Linked DNA regions of Homo sapiens. The protein of the gene in region 1 interacts with the protein of each later gene in a biochemical or structural test. Each region holds a gene or a part of one and is shown on either strand. Other genes may lie near its edges. The genes, in order: NOSTRIN, FRMPD4 and HTRA3.

Region 1 (3,651 bases):
CTACTCACTGTGGTCAGGGTTTGGCCAAAAAGAGAAATATGTTGGCTGTACTGGTTTAAGTTATTGCATAAAAGTTGAATTCTTTCCTTCTCCAGCTCCAGAATGCTCTGAAAAGAATGAAAATTGGGGTAAGATCAGCCAGTTGTTATGCAAAATGGAAGTCACTCATCAAACACTGACACACCTGAAGACAGACTGAACAAAGTCTCATGATTAGCCTCTTGACTATGTCATATCCAAACCATAGTGGAGGGAGATTTCCAGGAAGGAATGTGTCTTGGTATCTTAAATCACTCACACACTTTCCCCAGGCTCTTTTGACCCAAAAGGCATATAGGCAGATGCTGTGGGTTACCTAAGTTTATGAGGAAGGGGGAGAAAAGAAGAAAAGGAAGCATTTGAGACACAATCATGGATTCCAGAGAATTCCAGAGAATTTCAGTAGAGATGGGGTTTCACCATGTTGGGCAGGCTGGCCTTGAACTCCTGACCTCAGATGGTCCACCTGTCTTGGCCTCCCAAAGTGCTAGGATTACAGGCATGAGCCACCGCGCCTAGCCAGGCCTTGTTTTTACAAAAAAAAAAAAAAAAAAATTGGGAAGAATTCCAGAGGGTGAAGCCCAGGAAAGCCCATATCCATGTCTTGGAAATGCATTGAGACACCCAATAGTTTTAGAATTGTTTATAGTACATTCAAGGCGTTCTGCTAGTCTGCAGGGAAGAGAATGACAGGCCACAAATTCTCTGTTTAAGGAGGTTATTTGACAAGAGAAGAATCCCAAAGTCTGACCAATTTATAATTCTGCCTAAAATTAGGCCTGGGAGTCAGAGTCCGCTGTTTGCAGGTAGACACATAGCCTCTTTATTTTGTGTGAGATGACAGAAGTTTCATTATTAGACTTATGACTTTTAGGTAGGAAGGGTAAATAAGAAAGTGAGGGGAATCACATTTGCTTTGTTAGCTATTAACATTTTAGAGGCCGGGCACAGTGGCTCATGCCTATAATCCCAGCACGTTGGGAGGCCAGGGTGGGAGGATCACCTGAGGTCAGGAGTTTGAGACCAGCCCAGCCAACATGGTGAAACCTTATCTCTACTAAAAATACAAAAATTAGCCAGGCATGGTGGCACACGCCTGTAATCCCAGCTACTCAGGAGGTTGAGGCAGAATTGCCTGAACCCAGGAGGTGAAGTTTGCAGTGAGCCGAGATCATGCTACTGCACTCCAGCCTGGGTGACAAAAGTGAAACTGTCTCAAAAAAAAAAAAAAAATGAGAAAATGTTACTTATTGGACCCATGCCAACTGAGTTGCTGACTGGTGGTTTTACAGGGGGCAGAAAGCTTTAGCAACTAAGCATTCTTAGAGAAGGCTGGCTCAGGCAGAGTATTCAGGGAGACTCCAAGGCCATGTGGGGGCAGTGTAAGGCTGCTGGGTATGTGCCCAGGGGACTTTGGGCTTTGATGGAGATGGCAGGTGTCCAAGACAAAATTCTTCCCATCTTTTTTTTTTTTTTTTTTTGTAAAAACAAGGCCTGGCTAGGTGCGGTGGCTCATGCCTATAATCCCAGCATTTTGGGAGGCCGAGACGGGTGAACTACCTGAGGTCAGGAGTTCAAGGCCAGCCTGCCCAACGTGGCAAAACCCCGTCTCTACTAAAAATACAAAAATTAGCCAGGCCTGGTGGCGGGCGCCTGTCGTCCCAGCTACTCAGGAGGCTGAGGCAGGAGAATCGCTTGGACCTGGGAGGTGGTGGTTGCAGTGAGCTGAGATCATGCCACTGCACTCCAGCCTGTGCAAAAGAGTGAGATTCCATCTCAAAAAAAAGAAAAGAAGAAAGAGAAAGAAAGAAAGAAAAAATACAAGGCCTGGGCATTCATCCTTTTATCCAGGGAAGTCCAGCTCAGTTGCTCTCATACCCACCATCCCAACTCCTGCATCCCACAAAGAGCACCAGCAATCATCTTTCATGAACAAGGCTTTGGAGAAGTTGGTGGGTAACACGACCATAGGGAAGAAGAAAGATGGGTATGTCTCAAGGCCCTTGGCAGTGCAAGAGAGGTGAGAATGGAGAGTCACAAAGATCACTGGGTTCTCCTTGCTCACCTCTTGAAATTCCTACAGGAGCCCATTGGCCTGATTCAGTATGGTATTCCTCTATATCCCTGTGTTGTTAATTCATCTATGGTATATGGTGATTAAAATTATTTTAAATTTCTTTATACTTTTAATTATGGTAAAATTTACATAATATGACATGCCATTTTATCCACCTTAGGCATCCATTTCAGTGTCATTAAGTGCATTCACATTATTATGCAAACACCACCATAATTCATCTCTAAAACTTTTTTCATCTTGCAAAAGTAAACCGTACCCATGAAACAACGACTTCTCATTTCCTACGCTCTGCATCCCCTGGCAACCACCATTCTACTTTCTGTCTCTACAAATTTAACTACTCTTGATACCTCTTACAAGAGGAATCATACACTACTTGTTCTTTTGCATCTGGCTATTTCACTTAGCATAATGTCTGCAAGGTTCATCCATGTTGTAGCATGTGCCAGAATTCCCTTCCTTTTTGGCTGAATAATATTCCATGGTATGCATATACCACATTTTGTTTTTTGGTATATAGTCATTTGAACACTGCTTGCAAATGAAAGTAGTAAAAGGCTCAGGCAGTAACTATGAACATCTGTGCCAATCACATGCAACTTTAGCTTTTGTATCAAGTGTCCTGACATTTGGATTGGAAGCCTGGAGCCACGCCCCCATGGCAATCTTCTTAGTTGCCTCTGAAGCTGCCCAATTTTCATATGTCAATGGGAGTCAAATGGATTGGTTTACGCTGGCAGTCCCCTGAGGCTTTCACAAAATTGCAGGCACCAGTCATTTGAATGTGGCCGTCTGCCCTTCTGTCTCCCAGATAAAGGATTAAAGACACAGAATAGCCTATCAAATGTTTTGCTTCTTAAAAGGCAGAATCGATATGCCTCATAACAAATACGTAAAACAAATTCTGCTCAGTTGTTTGGATCTCCTATGTGACAATCTTCAAAAAGAAGAAGTCCTTACCCTATAGAAAAAGATCTAGAAATCAGCTCTTCTGTTTTAGCCTATGAGCAAGAGAGAAGAGAAAATAAAAGCCAGGTTTTAGAACATATTGCATCCCTAGTGGGCAGGTGTTTCTTTACTTTGACAAGTGCTGAACCACTAGCATCAATCTGAGACTAGAATAACCAGTGTTCCTTAGTGACATGGTAATGCTTAACAGATTTTAATTACATTTCAGGGAAATCATTAAAATGATCTATGTTTGCTCATAAGAAGAGGAGGAAATAAATTCCACTGTGCAAAGGAGAGATCCATATCTAATGATTTTTTGCTTTTTATTATCTTGTTCTTTTTATATAAAATAGGTGGTAGAGAAGCAAGATACTCTGGAGGACCTCAAACTGTCCTCTTGAGGTTCCACAATAGTATATATGAACAAAGTGTGGTCAAGGAGTTATCCAGAAAGATTCAGATTTCAGCAGATTTAGAGCCTGTCTGGGGCCCAAGCATCATGACAATTTGTTCTTCATTCGTTCCTTCCAGTTCTTGCTGTCCTAGCCTTTGGGCTGGTACTACAGGAAGAAGTCAAAGGG
Region 2 (3,651 bases), on another chromosome or scaffold:
TACGGGGAACATCCTGTGTATTCTGGGATGTTTAGCGGCACCCCTGGTCTCTACCCACAAGATGCCAGTAGCACCCTCCCGTGATCGTGACAAACAAAAATGTCTCCAGACATTGCCAAATGTGCTCCCGGGAACAAAATCACCCCTATTGACAAACAATGGATTCAATCCTACCTTTGGAGGGAAGATAAAATTATTGCTGTCATTCACCATCATTAGTGTTAAAATCTTTTTATGCTTTTGTTTTTGTTTTCATTAAGTAAGAGAAACACAAAGGAAATTTTAAAATATACTGTTGGTCAGAAAAGAGAGGTATAGTTTATAGGTAATAAAAAGCAAAGGATTCCAGGAACCAGAAAGAGAAGGAGCCTTAAAATACTGGATCTATAAAATTGGAAGCAGTCTTATAACTGAAGAACACTTTCCAATTGATATTAGCTGGAGAAATTTGTGTGACTCTAATACAAATCACTGTTTACGTGGAGAACCATTTTGTCTTAGTATCTGATTTTTTTAAGTCATTTTTACTGGGTAAGGTACATTTATTTCTATCCCCTCCTCACCCCACGACAATTTTTTTTTTTAAGTATAATCAGTTTCAACACACTATCAGCCACCTTTAACTCACTTCCCAATTTCATGGGAAGGATGTCTTTGATCACAGTGAGCATTCAGCTTACAGAGATGTAGCAAGATGATGTGGGTCAAGTTCTTTTTAACTTCAGTTCTGATTTGCTGGAAGCTAATTTCTATAATTGACTTGTGATTTTTTTTTCAAGCCTGGCCCACTCGTAATAATTTGGATAACTGCTATAAGATCAATCAACCTATCCATTTATCCATCACTGTCCTTTAAAGGTTGTTTTTCTAGCCAAGAGTGAATAGTTTGCTTTCAAAACAATTTGCAAATGCTTTGCATTTTTGAAAGAAGTAGGATGGATGAATGGTGCTAAGTAACAATTACATAAAGAGCAGTGCCTTTATGTATAGTTAACAAATAAGTTGGCAAGCCATCTGCAAGTGAAAATAGAATTTTATGGTCATTGCCACTTAATGGTGGTCTACACCTTGTTGGAAAATTTCAACCTTAATAAACATCCCTGGCACATTCAGTATGAAACATGGACCTTTTTTTTTTTTAAATCAAATACTCTTTTTAGTGATATGGGATCCTACATTTTTAAGTCTTTGTAAAGATAACTTTTATCTGGATAAAATTTCATTTATAAATCACTTGTGAAACTCAACAGATTTTCCAAGTTGAATTAATAAAACAGAGCCTTATTTAGCAAGTTCAAACATTTCCACAATGATTGGCTCTCAGAAAGTTCATTTCCCCCGAAAACTTGCAAGGACTGGAAGAAACTTGAGAGGGGAAGTGTAAAGGGCCTGTTTAGAAGGCTTTGCCTAGATTGCAGGTGCGTATTCAAAATGATTCCCACAAAGTCTGCATTCAGGTGAGTCTCTTGTGCAATGGGAATATAGGTAGACACCTCACCTTTGTCCCTAATTGCAAGTAGAAGGCCCACTCACCTCTTGAAATCTCCCAGTGAGCAGATGTTCAATGGAACATTTTATGGTCTTGTTCTCACTTGCTGAGTGCCCTGGCCCAGCATATCTATACCCATGAGTGCCCCATACATTGACCCCCTAATAAATAAGATTTGAATCTTGATTTTATGTTCCAGTCCTTCATCAGGAAACCAAATATGTAGCAATTTTATTCCTAATGAATAGTCTTTGTCACATCTCAACTTTTCAGCCGTAAAATCATCCTTCTATCTTACACTTGTTTTCTGCTAGTCTCCAGCTGAAATGGAGTCATACCCAATAGAGTTAACACCTGAGGTTTCTTTTCTCTCCTCAGCTCTCTGCACTACAAGCCAAGGTCCATTATCTCAAGTTCCTCAGTGACCTACGATTGTATGGGGGCCGTGTGTTCAAGGCAACATTAGTGGTAATTTCTTTTTTTTTTTTTTTTTTGCTTTCTCTTGGAAGCCACAGCAGCTCATTCCGCCTCTGATGACAAAAGCAAATCAGCTGTGAATCTTCTCCAGCCTTCATTTCTAACCAACTTCACAACAGTCTGAAAATATCAGAAGAAATGTTAAACTAGATAACACCACTGCAGAATGCCCTAGAAAAAGAAATGTGAAGAACCGAGAGAATCAAAGGATTCTAACAATGGCCTTCTTTTAAATCATTGAGCCAGAAGTTGCTTTCACAGTGAAAAAAGGAAAACCAAAAAGAAAAAAACAAACCTCATTTCTAAAAGGATCTTATGATTATGAACATACTGTGCTATAACATTTACTTTCTAATTACTCATGATTTATCAGAGCCTCAATTCAGTCATGTATCTGGTTCTTCTAATTGGATGATTTAGTACAGTATGACCCAGAAACACTTTCTAAAGAAAATATAATCTTATAAAAATAGGATCATAGGTTCAAGTTGGCATAGCATTTCAGAGGTTCAGTATTTTTATGTTGTCAACTTCTCTTTCTCAGCAGGCAGAAAAGCGCTCGGAAGTGACTCTCCTGGTTGGGCCCCGGTATGGCATAAGCCATGTCATCAACACCAAAACCAATCTGGTGGCTCTTTTAGCCGACTTTAGCCACGTCAACAGGATCGAAATGTTTTCCGAGGAGGAGAGCTTGGTGCGGGTAGAACTCCACGTGCTAGATGTGAAGGCAAGTTTCTCAGGTGTTGACACATGGCCTTGCTGTCAACAGCTAATTTCTGATAACACTGCAGATGTTTACAAGGCAGGCAAAAGTCAATGTGTGCAGAGCATCACAGATGCAATGTGGTGCAGAAAATAATCCACCAACTCAGGCCTGAGGGCTCCAGTCCTCACTAAATCGCTGTGTGATTGGGAACAGGTCGCTATAATTCTCTGCGCTCAATTTTTTTATTCATACGTGAGAAAGCAAGCTACATAATTTCTAGGTCCCTTCTGACTTTAGAATATGTGATTTCTAGGTATAGAGTAGGGGAAACTTTTCTGAACTAACTTTCTAGAATATATGACTCAAATCAAGAGGGAGATTTTTCCCAACTTTCTTTAGAATTCTCACTCCCTTTGCTTACGTTAGGTCCATATGTGTTTATTCTTTTGGAAAAGCTTGATGTTTTAGTTCATCTGTCTTCTCATATGGTAGCAATTGGTACTGACTGAACATCTGGCTCCTATGAATGTCATGGCCATTCCATTTAAAACAAAAATCTGGCCAGGTGCGGTGGCTGATGCCTGTAATCTCAGCACTTTGGGAGGCCGAGGCGGGCGGATCACGAGGTCAAGAGTTCAAGACCAGGCTGACCAACATGGTGAAACCCCATCTCTACTAAAAATACAAAAATTAGCCGGGCGTGGTGGCGTGCACCTGTAATCCCAGCTACTCAGGAGGCTGAGGCAGGAGAATTGCTTGAACCCAGAGGTGGAGGTTCCAGTGAGCCGAGATCGTGCCATTGAACTTCAGCCTGGGTAACAGAGCGAGACTCCATCTCAAAAAAAAAAAAAAAACACAAAAATCTGAGATGGTCCACAAAGGGCAAAACTCTACTCCCAAAAGAGAATAGGAAATAGTCCAGGTTCCTGGTCTCCACCTTCTTTTCCCAGTAGAGATGAGTTATTGGATTTTGGCAATG
Region 3 (3,574 bases), on another chromosome or scaffold:
GGTAGGGGACACAGAGTGGCCAGTGGTGGGACAGGGCAGTATGGGGGCCCAGAGGTGGCTCCTCTTCTGGTCTGGTGCTGGAGGGAGGGAGGGGCAGCTTCATACCAAAGAGCTGGGCAAAGGCTCAGGGGAGGGGCCTTGACGGCAGACTCTTTCCAGCCTGGTGGATGAGCTGAAGGCCAGCAACCCGGACTTCCCAGAGGTCAGCAGTGGAATTTATGTGCAAGAGGTTGCGCCGAATTCACCTTCTCAGAGGTAGGCTCTGCCAGAGGAGATCGCTCGAGGCATGGGGCAGGCGTGAGGTCTGGGCTGGGGCTGCCCCACTGACCTCATGTGACCTTGAGCTTCCCAGCAAAGTGACCGGGAAGGGGCAGGTGGATTCTAGCGTGTCTGCTAAGCCAGAGGAGGCTGGAGAGCTGAATGGTCCCTAGAGCCCTGACTGTGTACGTCCTAAGTCCCACAATGTCATTTCCTTCGAGAAGCAGAGGCTGAAGAGTCCCTGTTGGGCTAAGAACCCACTCCAAGCCAGACTCTTTCACTAGCTGGGGACCAGCCTGGGTCCTGGGTCTTTCTGGGACTCAGCTTCCTCATTGTAAAGTGGAGATAATTCAGCCTATTGTTTTTTTTTTTTTTTTTTTTTTTTTTTTTTTGAGACAGTCTCCCTCTTGTTGCCCAGCCTGGAGTGCAGTGTCGCGATCTCAGCTCACTGCAACCTCTGCCTCCTGGGCTCAAGCGACTCTCCTGCCTCAGCCTTCTGAGTAGCTCAGATTACAAGTGCCCACCACCATGCCCTGCTAATTGTTTTTGTATTTTTAGTAGAGAAGGGGTTTCACCACGTTGGCCAGGCTAGTCTTGAACTGCTGACCTCAGGCGATCCACCTGCCTTGGCCTCCCAAAGTGCTGGGATTTCTACCCCCAGGAGACTTTGTAGATGAAATGGATAAAGGATTGCTTTCTTTGAAGTCTTCCAGTACTAGAGAAATGTTAAGCATTGCAACACCATAGGCTGAGGCAGGCGTGCAGCGACACTACCACATGCTGGCATGGCTGACCCACTCCCAAGAAGGGCTCTGAACCAGTTGCCTCCCCTCCTTAGCCTCGGTCTTCATCTGCAGTGGGAAAAATCCACATATAAGTGGACCCACACAGTTCAGACCCATGTTGTTCAAGGGCCGACTGTACTGTGCATCCTCAGAGGCTGGGCTTGAAGGTGGGAGGCCCCGCGTGAACTTCTGTGATGAGCACAGATGGCACACTTGTCCTGCCCGCAGCAGGCCTGCAGTAAAAATTGTTGAAATTGGGTGAAATTTTCCACACACATCTCAGTTAATCCTCACTGCAGCCAGGGAGGTGCAGGCTCCTGCCCTCACCCATTTTACAGGTGGAGGGACTGAGGTTTAGAGAAGTTACTCTTCCAGGTCACACAGCTGGCATGTGAGGGTCCTGATGCTGGTGCCCACGCAGCTGAGCACAGTACCATCACCTTCCTTCCCAGCAGTGGGGAGGTCTCAGTGAGCCTCATGCAGAGAGAAGGCTGGCCCCGTGAGCTCTGCCTCCCACATAGACGTCTTCGTAACTGCAGTAACAGCAGAACCTACTCCTGGGCCTTTATAATTTGCAAAGTGCGTTTCCACATAGGATGGTAGACATGAAAACTGAGGCACAAGGGGACAGAGTGCCTGGCCCAGCTAGGAGGGCTGCAGCGGGAGCTTGAACCCACCCTTCTGACGCATGGGAGAAGCAGTTTGAAAGGTTGTTTCCCTGTCGTGTGACATTGGTTTTCTTCTGGTGTGAGAGCTTTGGGGCTGGGGCACTGTTCTTTCCCATCGAGATGACTTTTGTTGAAATGTTGTCATTGACCCTGACTGTGCCTCGCTCTGGGCCGGGCCTGGGAAGGCTGTGCCTGGGGAGGCGGTGGGTGGTGACCCCGTCTCTCCTGTTGGCAGAGGCGGCATCCAAGATGGTGACATCATCGTCAAGGTCAACGGGCGTCCTCTAGTGGACTCGAGTGAGCTGCAGGAGGCCGTGCTGACCGAGTCTCCTCTCCTACTGGAGGTGCGGCGGGGGAACGACGACCTCCTCTTCAGCATCGCACCTGAGGTGGTCATGTGAGGGGCGCATTCCTCCAGCGCCAAGCGTCAGAGCCTGCAGACAACGGAGGGCAGCGCCCCCCCGAGATCAGGACGAAGGACCACCGTCGGTCCTCAGCAGGGCGGCAGCCTCCTCCTGGCTGTCCGGGGCAGAGCGGAGGCTGGGCTTGGCCAGGGGCCCGAATTTCCGCCTGGGGAGTGTTGGATCCACATCCCGGTGCCGGGGAGGGAAGCCCAACATCCCCTTGTACAGATGATCCTGAAAGTCACTTCCAAGTTCTCCGGATATTCACAAAACTGCCTTCCATGGAGGTCCCCTCCTCTCCTAGCTTCCCGCCTCTGCCCCTGTGAACACCCATCTGCAGTATCCCCTGCTCCTGCCCCTCCTACTGCAGGTCTGGGCTGCCAAGCTTCTTCCCCCCTGACAAACGCCCACCTGACCTGAGGCCCCAGCTTCCCTCTGCCCTAGGACTTACCAAGCTGTAGGGCCAGGGCTGCTGCCTGCCAGCCTGGGGTCCCTGGAGGACAGGTCACATCTGATCCCTTTGGGGTGCGGGGGTGGGGTCCAGCCCAGAGCAGGCACTGAGTGAATGCCCCCTGGCTGCGGAGCTGAGCCCCGCCCTGCCATGAGGTTTTCCTCCCCAGGCAGGCAGGAGGCCGCGGGGAGCACGTGGAAAGTTGGCTGCTGCCTGGGGAAGCTTCTCCTCCCCAAGGCGGCCATGGGGCAGCCTGCAGAGGACAGTGGACGTGGAGCTGCGGGGTGTGAGGACTGAGCCGGCTTCCCCTTCCCACGCAGCTCTGGGATGCAGCAGCCGCTCGCATGGAAGTGCCGCCCAGAGGCATGCAGGCTGCTGGGCACCACCCCCTCATCCAGGGAACGAGTGTGTCTCAAGGGGCATTTGTGAGCTTTGCTGTAAATGGATTCCCAGTGTTGCTTGTACTGTATGTTTCTCTACTGTATGGAAAATAAAGTTTACAAGCACACGGTTCTCAGCCAGCAGGGCACTGGGGCAGCCTACCCACCACTGGCCAGGGTTCTTCCTGGGGACCCATCTAACACATGACTGGGCATACCTGCAAAGACACGGGCCTTTAAAGGGTTTCTATGACAGCTGAGCACTGGGGCACACCAGGTCTCGGGGTCATGTGGCGCTGTGGAGGGCCAGCTCCGAGTCAGGCAGCCCGGCTCAAGTCCTGGCTCCTCCGCTTACTTCCGGCTTCGTGGTCTTGGGCAAGAGATGTTCCCCTCCCTACCTTGGCCTCTGCCTCTGTCCAGCAGGAAGGCTGGCTCTGCTGTGCTGACCTCCTGGATGCCCTGGGATGCAAGGTGACAGATGCAGCACTTGGGAAGCCACCCGGCTTACGGGGAGCTCCCACTAAGCCCCACTGTGCACGTCTGGTCACATGAAGAACCCTTTCTCACATCTATTTCACCCTCCCTGCCACCCATCCAGCGATGGGGAAACTGAGGCAGAGAGCAATTT

What was found.
Region 2: the proteins of NOSTRIN (region 1) and FRMPD4 interact in a test that uses a peptide from one of them, tested with the Homo sapiens proteins (one large-scale study listed by IntAct).
Region 3: the proteins of NOSTRIN (region 1) and HTRA3 interact in a test that uses a peptide from one of them, tested with the Homo sapiens proteins (one large-scale study listed by IntAct).

What each region holds. Positions count from the first base shown.
Region 1 is NC_000002.12:168,847,540-168,851,190, reverse strand, and holds part of NOSTRIN (nostrin), read right to left. Parts: intron 356-3,651; coding exon of another isoform or gene 185-355; intron 108-184; coding exon 9-107; intron 1-8. UniProt on the Homo sapiens protein: Multivalent adapter protein which may decrease NOS3 activity by inducing its translocation away from the plasma membrane.
Region 2 is NC_000023.11:12,704,959-12,708,609, forward strand, and holds part of FRMPD4 (FERM and PDZ domain-containing protein 4), read left to right. Parts: intron 1-1,867; coding exon 1,868-1,957; intron 1,958-2,510; coding exon 2,511-2,693; intron 2,694-3,651. UniProt on the Homo sapiens protein: Positive regulator of dendritic spine morphogenesis and density. Required for the maintenance of excitatory synaptic transmission. Binds phosphatidylinositol 4,5-bisphosphate.
Region 3 is NC_000004.12:8,304,025-8,307,598, forward strand, and holds the end of HTRA3 (serine protease HTRA3 isoform 1 precursor), read left to right. Parts: intron 1-159; coding exon 160-255; intron 256-1,946; coding exon 1,947-2,112; 3' UTR 2,113-3,074; downstream 3,075-3,574. UniProt on the Homo sapiens protein: Serine protease that cleaves beta-casein/CSN2 as well as several extracellular matrix (ECM) proteoglycans such as decorin/DCN, biglycan/BGN and fibronectin/FN1.